2 separate regions of the Homo sapiens genome follow, and region 2 is linked to region 1. The links come from fine-mapping of genetic effects on gene expression. A gene starts in region 1. The other region holds a variant in brackets. All regions are shown on one strand. Distances are from middle to middle.

Region 1 (5,533 bases):
TAGTAGAGACCGGGTTTTGCCATGTTGGCCAGGCTGGCCTCAAACTCCTGACCTCAAGTGATCTACCTGCCTCAGCCTCCCAAAGTGCTGGGAGGAGTGAGATTTTAATTGCGAATTACAGAATACTGCGTTACCTGTGTCATCATCAGTCATATAACAGGATATGTGGACCAACATCTCTGACTAAGGCTAGATTCAAGGAACAGGCATCAGTGCCCAATATGGGCACTGCAAGGGGGGTGCGTGTGTATGCCAGAGCTGGGAGGGTGTATAGGGATGGTGCAGGGGTTGGGGGGTTGGGGGGCAGTGTGGGGTGGGATGAGTGGTCTGGCTTTGGCAAAACCAAAGAGCTGAAAGAGGCCTATTGTGATGGGTGGTTCTCAAATCAATCTTGTGGGTTAGGTATAATATTTGACTTTACTACATTTTATAGATAATAAGGTTAAGGCAAATTAACCTTTAAAAATCAAGATGGAGACCCAAGCCAACCAGTGAAGAAAGCAGAGCCTATTTCCTGCACTCTTCCTGCCTTCTTAATGCCTCTTCCCCCAGCCTGTGCCCCCTGGCTATCAGGCCCACTGTGGCAGCTTACCCAGCTTTACTTTTGGATCCCTCATGTGTGGTGGTCTCAGAACAGTACCAAACTCTTAAGACTTGGCTTCCTTTTTTTTTTTGTAGGATCCTGTCCTTTCCAAACTAGATTATTGTATAAACTGATCCCTCCTAAGGTAATAACAGTTTCTAACACAAATTTGCAGTTTAACAGGGCACTGTGGAAGCATATCTGCAACTTAGAAGTGACTGACTCCTTTACCACAGCAAGCCAAAGTTGAGTTTAATCTTTGGGAAGGCACACAAATGACACTCCCACTGGCAACTCATTTACATAGATTGCTCTTTAGAGGAGACACACATTCTTTCATTTGGTTCTCATAGAGCTGAGATGGGAAAAAAGAGACAATTATTATAGTTATTTTACAGATAAGGAAACTGAGGTTTAAGGAAATTATGTCCTAACACCACCTAGGAAGTGGCAGGGAATGGATCCTAATACAGAACTCTTCAATCCTTTTTCTCCATCACGTTGCCTTGTTGCCTACTGAAAATTGTGTTGAGGGGTAGCTTCATCATGAACAAAATCGGTCCTAGCACTCTGATCCTGGTTCATGTTCAGGGTCTCAGTCTGCCTTACTCTGGATAACTTCAAGTTGTTTGTCTGTTGGTGAAAGATTGGTCACAAAAGGTGTTGCTAAAGATGTTCTCATTAACAATTTTACTGTAGATTAAAGAGATCAGAATTCCAAAATATCCAGTGATTTCAGTTAGTCCTCAATCATAAGTTTGGTGTCTGAGAAGCTTTGGACACATGGTATTAGGAAATTTTTTCTATCTGCAGATTGCTAGTTTAAATTCAAGATTCCCATCTTTTTTTTTTTTTTTTTTTTTTGAGACTGGGTCTGAGATCTCAGCTCACTGCAACCCTCACCTCCCAAGTTCAAGCGATTCTCCTGCCTCAGCCTTCCGAGTAACTAGGATTACAGGGGCGCACCACCACGCCCGGCTAAATTTTGTATTTTTAGTACAGACGGGGTTTCACCATGTTGGTCAGGCTGGTCTCGAACTCCTGACCTCGTAACCCGCCCACCTCGGCCTCCCAAAGTGCTGGGATTATAGGCACGAGCCACCGCGCCCGGCCAAGATTCCCATCTTTTAAGTGAATTGAGCAGATGGCAGACCCTGCCCTCTACCTGCTGGACTGGTGTCCACAACAGATTTAACAATGAAAACTGATCAGTGAAAAGGCCGTCTCGCTGTACCCTAAAGAGCTGTTTAGGAAACACTGAAACCTCAGTGATTTGCTTATCTGTATCCGTGTCTGATTTAGCCAGTGAACACGTGATGGTTTTAAACACACATCTTTAGAGCACTATGTTGAGATCCGCTTATAACCAAGATCTTAAGGTAATAACGAAACACACCTGACAGAACAGTTTTCCTCAAATTACTATATATAGCCAGATATATCTCTATATATCCATTCCCGAGATGCTGGAGAGTAGAGAGTAAAATTCTATACTTTGCACTTGCCAGAAGCAGAGTAACATAAATGTTGTCTAGGAAGCTTTTACAACAGACTGGTGAAAATTAAAACACTTTTCAACGCCTCGATTTAGAGTAATTTTCGTGAGCGTAGAGAAGGGGCTGGGCCAGGACCACCAAGTAGGGACTATGTGCACAGGGACCCGCGTTTACCAGCCTGCCCTCAGCTGGGCGGGGAACCGGACAGCCCTCAGCCTGCACCCAGCCCATGCGAGGTCCCAGCCCAAGTCCCGCCCCAGTATTACCGATGCCCCAGCGGGCTGAGCCACTTTCTCCTCCTCTTCGTCCTCCAAGATCGCCTCCGCTGCCGCCAGGGCCTTTAAGGGGTCTTCGCGTTCGTACTGGGCGACCCGCGCTCCAGTGATGGGATTTACCGGGGTCTGGAGACTGGAGGCCACCAGCTTCGCCACTCGGTGGGAGGTGGCCATCGCCCCGCCTCCGAGGCCTGAGCGCCTGCGCTGGCCCGGGACGGGAAAGCTGGTGCGGCCCCTGGCAACCCGGGGGCGCCTAGCTAGGGAGCCGGTTGCTATGGGCGCCGTAACTGGGGACGCTACAGGAGCCGCCAGGGACCAAAAGTCACGCAAAATCCACTCAGGCTGCCAGAGACCCGAGTCGGGTGCTTACTGGATCATGGCAGTCAGTACCGAGTCTGTTGGCTGGTTCCGAAGGTTGGCAGGCTGAACAGGGCACTTATTCCACTCCTTTGCGTCTAACCGCCTGAACGCAGACTTCTCACATTATACAATGAAACAACTGCTTTTGTGAAGAAAAGAACGCTTTTTTATTAACTGCAATAACATGTTAGAAGGAGACAGTTGATGGAGGAGACGGCGGCGGCGGAGGAAAGCAGGGCGTGTTACTGGGTGGCGGTCTCAGAAGAGTGACAAGGTTGGCGTCCCGCTACCTAACATGTCTCCCGCGGGGGCCAGAGTGGGAAGGAGGGCGGTACATTCTACTCTGATTGACTTGAGGGCTAGCAGGAATCCACCAATCAGAAGGAGGCTCCCAGTTGTCCCTCTCGCTTTTTTCTTGACATGACCAATAAAAGCCCAGAGTTGGGTGGCGCCTGACCCTCCCACTAATGAGTGATAGTGCAGGTATTGTAAACCTGGCGTTTGCTTTGGGTTCTTCAGCTTGAGAGTGACAGGATTGAACGGCACAAGTGCCCAAGAGTCACCACAGACACATCCATCTCCCTCATCCGTATCTTCTCTTCCCACTCGGGATTTGGACGCATCAAATGGCGCCTTCCCTCTGCACCACGTGGCAGTAAGAGAAGCCAAACCTCAAAATAGCGGACGTGGTGCAGTCTCAGACATCTGCTCCCTGAGCCCCTGCTTACTGAGGCCGAGGCTGCCGCCCCCTATCTACTCCCTATCTACCCCCTCTCTATCCTTTGCCCTCCTCCTGCTCCCCAGCCCTACGACCGGCCCCCTCCGGTCAGTATTTTCCTCGTTATGCGCTGCACATCGTCGAGAACCCGTCTCTAAGGTCTGAGCCCTTACCAAACCTTTGTTCTCCTGTCTGGGTGTGAGCACCTACAAAGTCTCCTACGTCCCCACTTCCTTCAGGCTGCTCTTGGTTTTAGCTGAACAGTTGCTTCCCATGCTGGAACAGATGCTGACTGGGTTCTAAGCAGAAGCCAGAGCCAGAACCATGAGATATGCACCGCCAGGTGTGGCCAAGTTTCCAGGGGAGCAATTTCCAGTCAGACACGGCAGCCAGTTTTGTGGCTACAAAACTGCCTCAGCCTCCGGAGTAGCTGGGATTACAGGCGCACTCCCGGGAGGCGGAGGTTGCAGTGAGCCGGGATGGCGCCACTGCACTCCAGCCTGGGCAATAAAGCAAGACTCCGTCTCACCACCACCACCACCAACAAAAGTATTGATAAGGAATTATAGCAGATGAATTATAAATAATGAAATATCCTATTCTCTTTACTGTAAATTCCTCATAGACAATTGCTTCTCTCAGAATGCTTTCGTTGGTTTATGCTGTACTCCTGTATTTGTGGCCAACTTATGGTTGCAATTGTTTAACAACCTAGTTCCAACATGAATGTTGGTTAATATTTTTGTTTTTATTTGTGATTAAGATGAGAGTGACATATCCAAGATCTATGTCAGAATTTCACTTGTCAATGTTATGAGCAACTTCTTTGCTGAAATAGATAATCATTTTCTAACACTGGAATAATTTTTCTTAATTTTTTCTGCAAGTCACAATGTAAAGGCTACAGATAACACAAACTTTTAAGTTTACTCTGCATTAATATTTTCCACATCCGTTTCTTAAGTTTAAATGTCCAATGTTTAGCTTTTGCTGATTTCCATGATGTCAATATTCCCATCATAGCCAATTTCAAGCCACCAATGTGACATCACTTAATAAGAATTTGAGAAAAGATGTCTAGTAGCACACCATTATATAGTATTTCCACCATACAGATACAGTAGATGCAAGGAACATAAAAGAAAGTGAAGAGTTTTAAGAAATTATCTTTGTTTTTGACATAATTTATTGTAATTAACAAAACAATTTTTTTTTTTTTAAGATGGAGTCTCCTTGTCACCCAGGCTGGAGTGCAGTGACGTGATCTCGGCTCACTGCAACTTCCGCCTCCCAGGTTCAAGCGATTCTCCTGCCTCAACCTCCCGAATAGCTGGGACTACAGGTGCCTGCCAACACGCCTAGCAAATGTTGTATTTTTAGTAGAGGGCAGGGTTTCACCATGTTGACCAGGCTGGTCTTAAAATCCTGACCTCAGGTGATCCGCCTGCTTTGGCCTCCCAAAGCACTGGGATTACAGATATGAGCCACCACGCCCAGCCAAGTTAGACATTATAAAAGAAAAATAACTAGAAAAGCCTTTTTAGTTGGGAAATTTAAAACTCTTCAAAAAACAATTTGTGCATTACAGAAAAAGTCATGGCAGAAATTATCTAGAGAGTCAAATAACAACAAAAATACAATGTGTCAAAATGTCTTAAATGTAAAATGGTGCAGCCACTTTTTAAAAGTTTAGGCCTTCTTTCTCCCACCGTCCCTCATGTTCTTCCTTTCCATCTTGGGCCTGGCAGAATGGCTCCTGCAAAGAAGGGTGGCAAGAAGATGAGCTGTTCTGCCATCAACAAGGTAGTGACCCAAGAACACACTTGGGTCACTAGCTCACATCCATGGAGTGGGCTTCAAGAAGCATGCTCTGTGGGCATTCAAAGAGATTCAGAAATTTGCCATGAAGATGGGCACTCCAGATGTGTGCATTGATACCAGGCTTAACAAGGCTATCAGGGCCAAAGGAATAAGGAATGTCCCACACCATGTACATGTGCGATTGTTCAGAAAACATAACAAGGATGAAAATTCACCAAACAAGCTCAATACTGTGGTTACCTGTATACCTGTTACCACTTTCAAAAATCTAGATAGTCAG
Region 2 (5,000 bases), 110 kb after region 1:
GCCAGATTTTACTTACGAAACCAAATAAATTTCTTTTTTTTAAAATATGTAAATTTGTTAAATTAGCATGCAGAATATGGCAGTAATACCCAATTGAAACACTAGTTGGTTGTATATTAAATCTAATAATAGGAAATATGAATTTGCCTTTAAAATGTATTTCATTTCACTTCTATTTTTAGCTGTGCCAAATGAAACAAAGTTGGACTTCATGTATAAAGGCTCTAGTAATGTCCTAGGTCATCAGATAAATAGAAGCCTTATTATTTTATCACAGGTGGCAAAAAGAGGACTAATTACACAGACTTGTGAGAAATGAAGTTGCCTATCTACTCCATAACTCTTCTTTTGGCTACAGTTTCCTTCTCTTGGTATTTTCAAATTGTTAAATTGAAAATTGTTAAATGTAAGTTGGGAAATTAAAAGATTTAATTGTTAAATGTAAGTTGGGAAATTAAAAGTCTGTGTAATTAGTCCTGTTTTTGCCACCTGTGATAAAATAATAAGGCTTCTATTTATCTAAGAAGACCCGGGCATACACAACAGTGGTTTTTAAAAATTTACCGTCAACTTGAAGTATTTTCCTTTCTCTTCCATGAAGAGCAGTAACATTTTTTCTCTTTTCTTATTTTTAGTAACTTTTATCTTCCTGACTTCCATAGCCAGCATCTTATTTTCTTCTTGGTGTCCTTTTTCCCTTATCAAATGTAACCAGGATCTTTATTATAGTGGAAATGGGGCCAGTTGATGAAGTCTAATATGAAACGAATATTTTAACTTTCAAATGCAGAAGAGCTAAGTTGCAAAGATAGCAGAACTGTCCAATCTGTCTACCTTCACAGCAGTGCTTCTTACATTTAAGAAGCAGTCTGTTGAGGACCAGTTTTGTTTTTTAAAAAAATGTTCAATTCCTCACCAAAAATACATAAAAACATACAATCCGATTATTTTATTAGGTTAATTGACATAAAAATAGTCATTTTTCCATGAAAGTTTCTAAATATTTACTTTCAGTTTGTATAATTACCTCATGGTGGACTGGTAGTGAAGTTTGTGGTCTGGCACTGATATGTAGACCATACTTTGGGTAGCATTGCTCTAGATTTTCTAGCAAATCAGGAAAGCCAAGGATGTTGAGCTCTTGTTTACATAACCAGATTGAAAGCTCTTCAAAAGCAGGTCCATATGCTGTTCATCTTATTTGAAGGATTGGGACAGGGCCTGATACATAGTAGGCAGGTGGTGAAAACTATAACTTAGGCCACAGACTATAAGCTGATAATAAGTGGGATCATAAAGCTGAATGGGCTAGTACAAATTCTGCGAGTATTCCAAAATATGAATTGTGAAATATTAATAGTAATTTAGGAGGGTTTCCATATCAGAGTATCATCTTTTTCTTTGCTTTAAAAAATGTCTGATAAAGTGTATTCAGTCCTGAATGTCAATTGAGAACTGGCTCTCATCACTGGCTTTCATAATAATGTTAAACATTTTGCTCTATTTTAAGAAAATAGGCTGGGTGTGGTGGCTCATGCCTATAATCCCAGCACTTTGGAAGGCCAAGGCTGGCAGATCATCTGAGGTCAGGAGTTCGAGACCAGCCTGGCCAACACAATGAAACCCTATCTCTACTAAAAATACAAAAATTAGCCGGGCGTGGTGGCGTGTGCCTGTAATCCCAGCTACTTGGGAGGCTGAGGCAGGAGAACTGCTTGAACCCAGGAGGCAGAGGTTGCAGTGAGCCAAGATTGTGCCACTGCACTCCTGCCTGGGTGACACAGTGAGACTCCCTCTCAGAAAAAAAAAAGAAAACAAAAGCCGCTTGGTGCCAAACATAGTCTATAGGGGAAAATAAAATTTAAGAGATTTAGTAAGGTTGAACCATTTGAAATTAGCATACTTGTGAGTCCAAAACAGTTGAATACTGTTGTATTTATATGGCTCAACCTACAGATATAGCAATATGGAATGTAATTACTTGGGGGCACATGCAGCTCATATAGCAAATTCTCTTTGCTTAATTTTAGGGAAATTGAAGCCCAGAGAATACATTTGAAACAGTAAAACCATACTATAATTAATTGTACAGTAAATCACATTTCACAAATTTACTGAAGGTGAAAAGAAAGGACAAAATCAGTTTGCTTTTCTTTTTGGACTATATCTACTTAGAGTTTTGGACCATTTTCCTTTTCTTGATGGAGGGGAGGGAGGGAGGGTATCACTCTGTTGCTGGGCTGGAGTCCCATGGTATAATTTTGGCTCACTGCAGCCTTGGCCTTCTGGGCTCAAGTGATCCTCCTACCTCAGCCTTTCCAGTAGTTGTCACCACAGGTGCATGCCACCATGCCTGGCTCATTTTTTGTATTTTTTATATAGTTGAGATTTCTCCATGTTGCCCAGGCTGGTTTCAAATTCCTGAGCTCAAGCAGTCCATTTGCCTCTGCTTCACAAAGTGCTGGGATTACAGGCATGAACCACCGTGCCTGGCCTCAGTTTTTACTTAAAATAATGGCATAAACAATTTGAGATTTGATTCTCAGTAACGAAACCAGTTTCAAGGGAAATCTTTATTTAGTCTTTTTTTTTTTTTTTTTTTAAAGACAGGATCTTGCTGTGTTGCCCAGGATAGAGTGCAATGGGTATTCATAGGCACAATCATGGCACACCGTGGCCTTGAACTCCTGGGCTCAAGTGATTCTCCTGCCTCAGCCTCCTGAGCAGCTGGGACTACAGGTGCACACCACCACATCTGGCTTTTATATGTAGGTTTTTTT[T/G]GTTTGTTTGTTTTCAAACAAGAAAATGTTTAAGAGCTTTATAAAATACTTATTTACCTAAACTCTTTTGGACAGTTTCACTTGCTTTAGATCATTATGTAATTTTTATTCTGCAGGCTATAGAAATACAAGTTTTTTTGACGTGGCATTTGATCTTTAATTATATAAATTTATATTTTTCGAGGAAGAAATTCTGATGGCATAAATCAGGATTAAAAAAACATTCTCTTTAAGACTCATTACTAACAATAGTCACCAGAGGCAAATTGCTTTTACTTTCTCAAGGTCTTAATTTAATTGTGCTTTCAACTTGGCAGTGTTGTATATTTTATAAGCTCCACTAAAGAACACATCTACACATTATGACATAGCACGTTCTTGGAAACTTGACAGAACTGTTGACAAGTACAGATTTGTTTTTGGTTACTGTGAGTATTTTTTGTGGTAATTGAACTGTTGTTAGTTCTTGGTAGCTTTATGTGCTTGTCAGTCTGTTTTCTTCATAAGTGATGATTAATTTAAATCTGTGTGATGTGTTCCAGTTCACTTACTTGATGGAAATTGGAGAAGTGCATAGCTTTCTGATATTCTTAATTACTGGTTCCCATTAAGTGACTGGAGAAGCAAATATTTATGTCTCAGGTATTGTAGTATTGAATTTCCAGTCATTCTTTCTTCCTGGCTATAACTTAGTCACTGAAGAAATAACTATCCTTTATTCAAACAACTTCCTTGGTACAATCCAGCAATATGTTTTTTTTCTTGCAATATTAAAAACCTCCGATGTAAGTGGAAAAAGAGTTATTTCCAAGCAGAATGAGAATAATCATAGCGCTGGGCACAGTGGCTCACACCTGTAATCCCAGCACTCTGGGAGGCCAAGGTAGGTGGATCACCTGAGGTCAGGAGTTCGAGACCAGCCTGGCCAATATGATGAAACCCCATCTCTAGTAAAAATACAAAAAATTAGCTGGGTGTGGTGGTGGGCGCGTGTAATCTTAGCTACTTGGGAGACTGAGGCAGGGGAATCGCTTGAACCTGGGAGGTGGAGGTCTCAGTGAGCTGAGATCACACCGCTGCATTCCATCCAGCCTGGGCAACAAGAGGGAAACTCCACCTCAAAAAAAAAAAAAAAGAATAATGATAAATATATTATTTGTGGATAAGAGTTTTCTGCATTTTAAAAAATTATTAAAAAGGATATACAGTTGTCCCTTGGTGTCCATGGGGAATTAGTTCTAGGATCTCGAAAATCCTCAGATGCTCAAGTCTCTGATATAAAATAGTGTGGTATTTGCATATAACCAAAATACACTCTCCCATATACTTTAAATAATCTCTAGATTACTTATAATACGTAAAACAACAAATGCTACATAAGTACTTGTTATACTGTATTGTTTAGGGAATAATGATAAAAAAAAGTTTGGTACATGTTTATTATAGACACAGATTTTTATTTTGAATATTTGGCCCTCAGATGGTTGAATTCCTAGATGTGGAATTCACAGATGCAGAGGGCCAACTGTATATGACTTACTAGAAATACCATGATAAAGAATATTTCCTATGATTAATTTTTTTTCTTTCTTGGAAAAATTGGATTACTTAAACTCCAGGTTGTCTTGTATTTGGATCAATAAGATATTCTAGAAGTTATTTCCTTGACAATATTTTATCTAGTTTGTTAAAAAAGAGTTGCAAGTTATTAGGCTGCATTAATTTATCTGTTATATTTGGTCATAGAATTCATGTCCCCAGTATTTGTTTTTTTTGTTTGTCTGTTTCTGACAGGGTCCCTGTTGCCCAGGCTTCAGTACAGTGGTGCGATCACTGCTCACTGTGGCCCCCTGTCTCCTGGGCTCAAGCAATCCTTCCACCTCAGCCTCCGGAGTAGCTGGGACTACAAGCATGTGCCGCCATGCCCGGCTAATTTTTGCATTTTTTGTAAAGACAGAGTTTTGCTATATTGTTGTTAGGGATAGCGCTCAAAATCCTAAGGAAATTGAACACTCGAACAAAGGATTTTTAGCAAAACAATTTTACTTCTGCGCAGAGGGGTGCCTCCTTGGCTGGTTGCCGTGAGAGCACACCTGAATAAAGGGGCGTGAGAGCCTTTATTCCTGATGCAAGTCCTGCCCCTGCACCCTTTCCTCATTTGCTACGGTTGGGTTGTACAATCTAAACTAATCCCGGTTGGCTAAACGTTTGATTTTTTAA

Which allele goes with the higher level. Positions count from the first base shown, and alleles are read on the strand shown. Sizes are in standard deviations (SD) of each study's normalised expression.
In carriers of allele T in region 2, the expression in unexposed skin of the gene that starts at base 2,547 in region 1 tends to be higher than with G alone (small effect, 0.29 SD a copy in GTEx).

Evidence for each region.
Region 2: its variant is fine-mapped to the expression of FAM161A in unexposed skin (GTEx, PIP above 0.99). The same link has a PIP of 0.9 or more in pituitary.

The regions. Positions count from the first base shown.
Region 1 is chr2:61,851,514-61,857,046 of GRCh38, forward strand. It overlaps FAM161A (FAM161 centrosomal protein A), which reads right to left and starts at 2,547. Exons shown (of 7, transcript NM_001201543.2): 1 at 2,346-2,547. The coding sequence starts at 2,528. It also overlaps the pseudogene RPL31P30. RefSeq lists enhancers at 2,031-2,160, 2,321-2,480, 2,721-2,950, 3,691-3,740.
Region 2 is chr2:61,966,363-61,971,362 of GRCh38, forward strand. All of the region lies in intron 1 of COMMD1 (copper metabolism domain containing 1), which reads left to right. Among named protein-coding and RNA genes, the nearest start is that of COMMD1, 63 kb to the left of the region's middle. The variant T/G (reference allele first, on the strand shown) is at 2,781.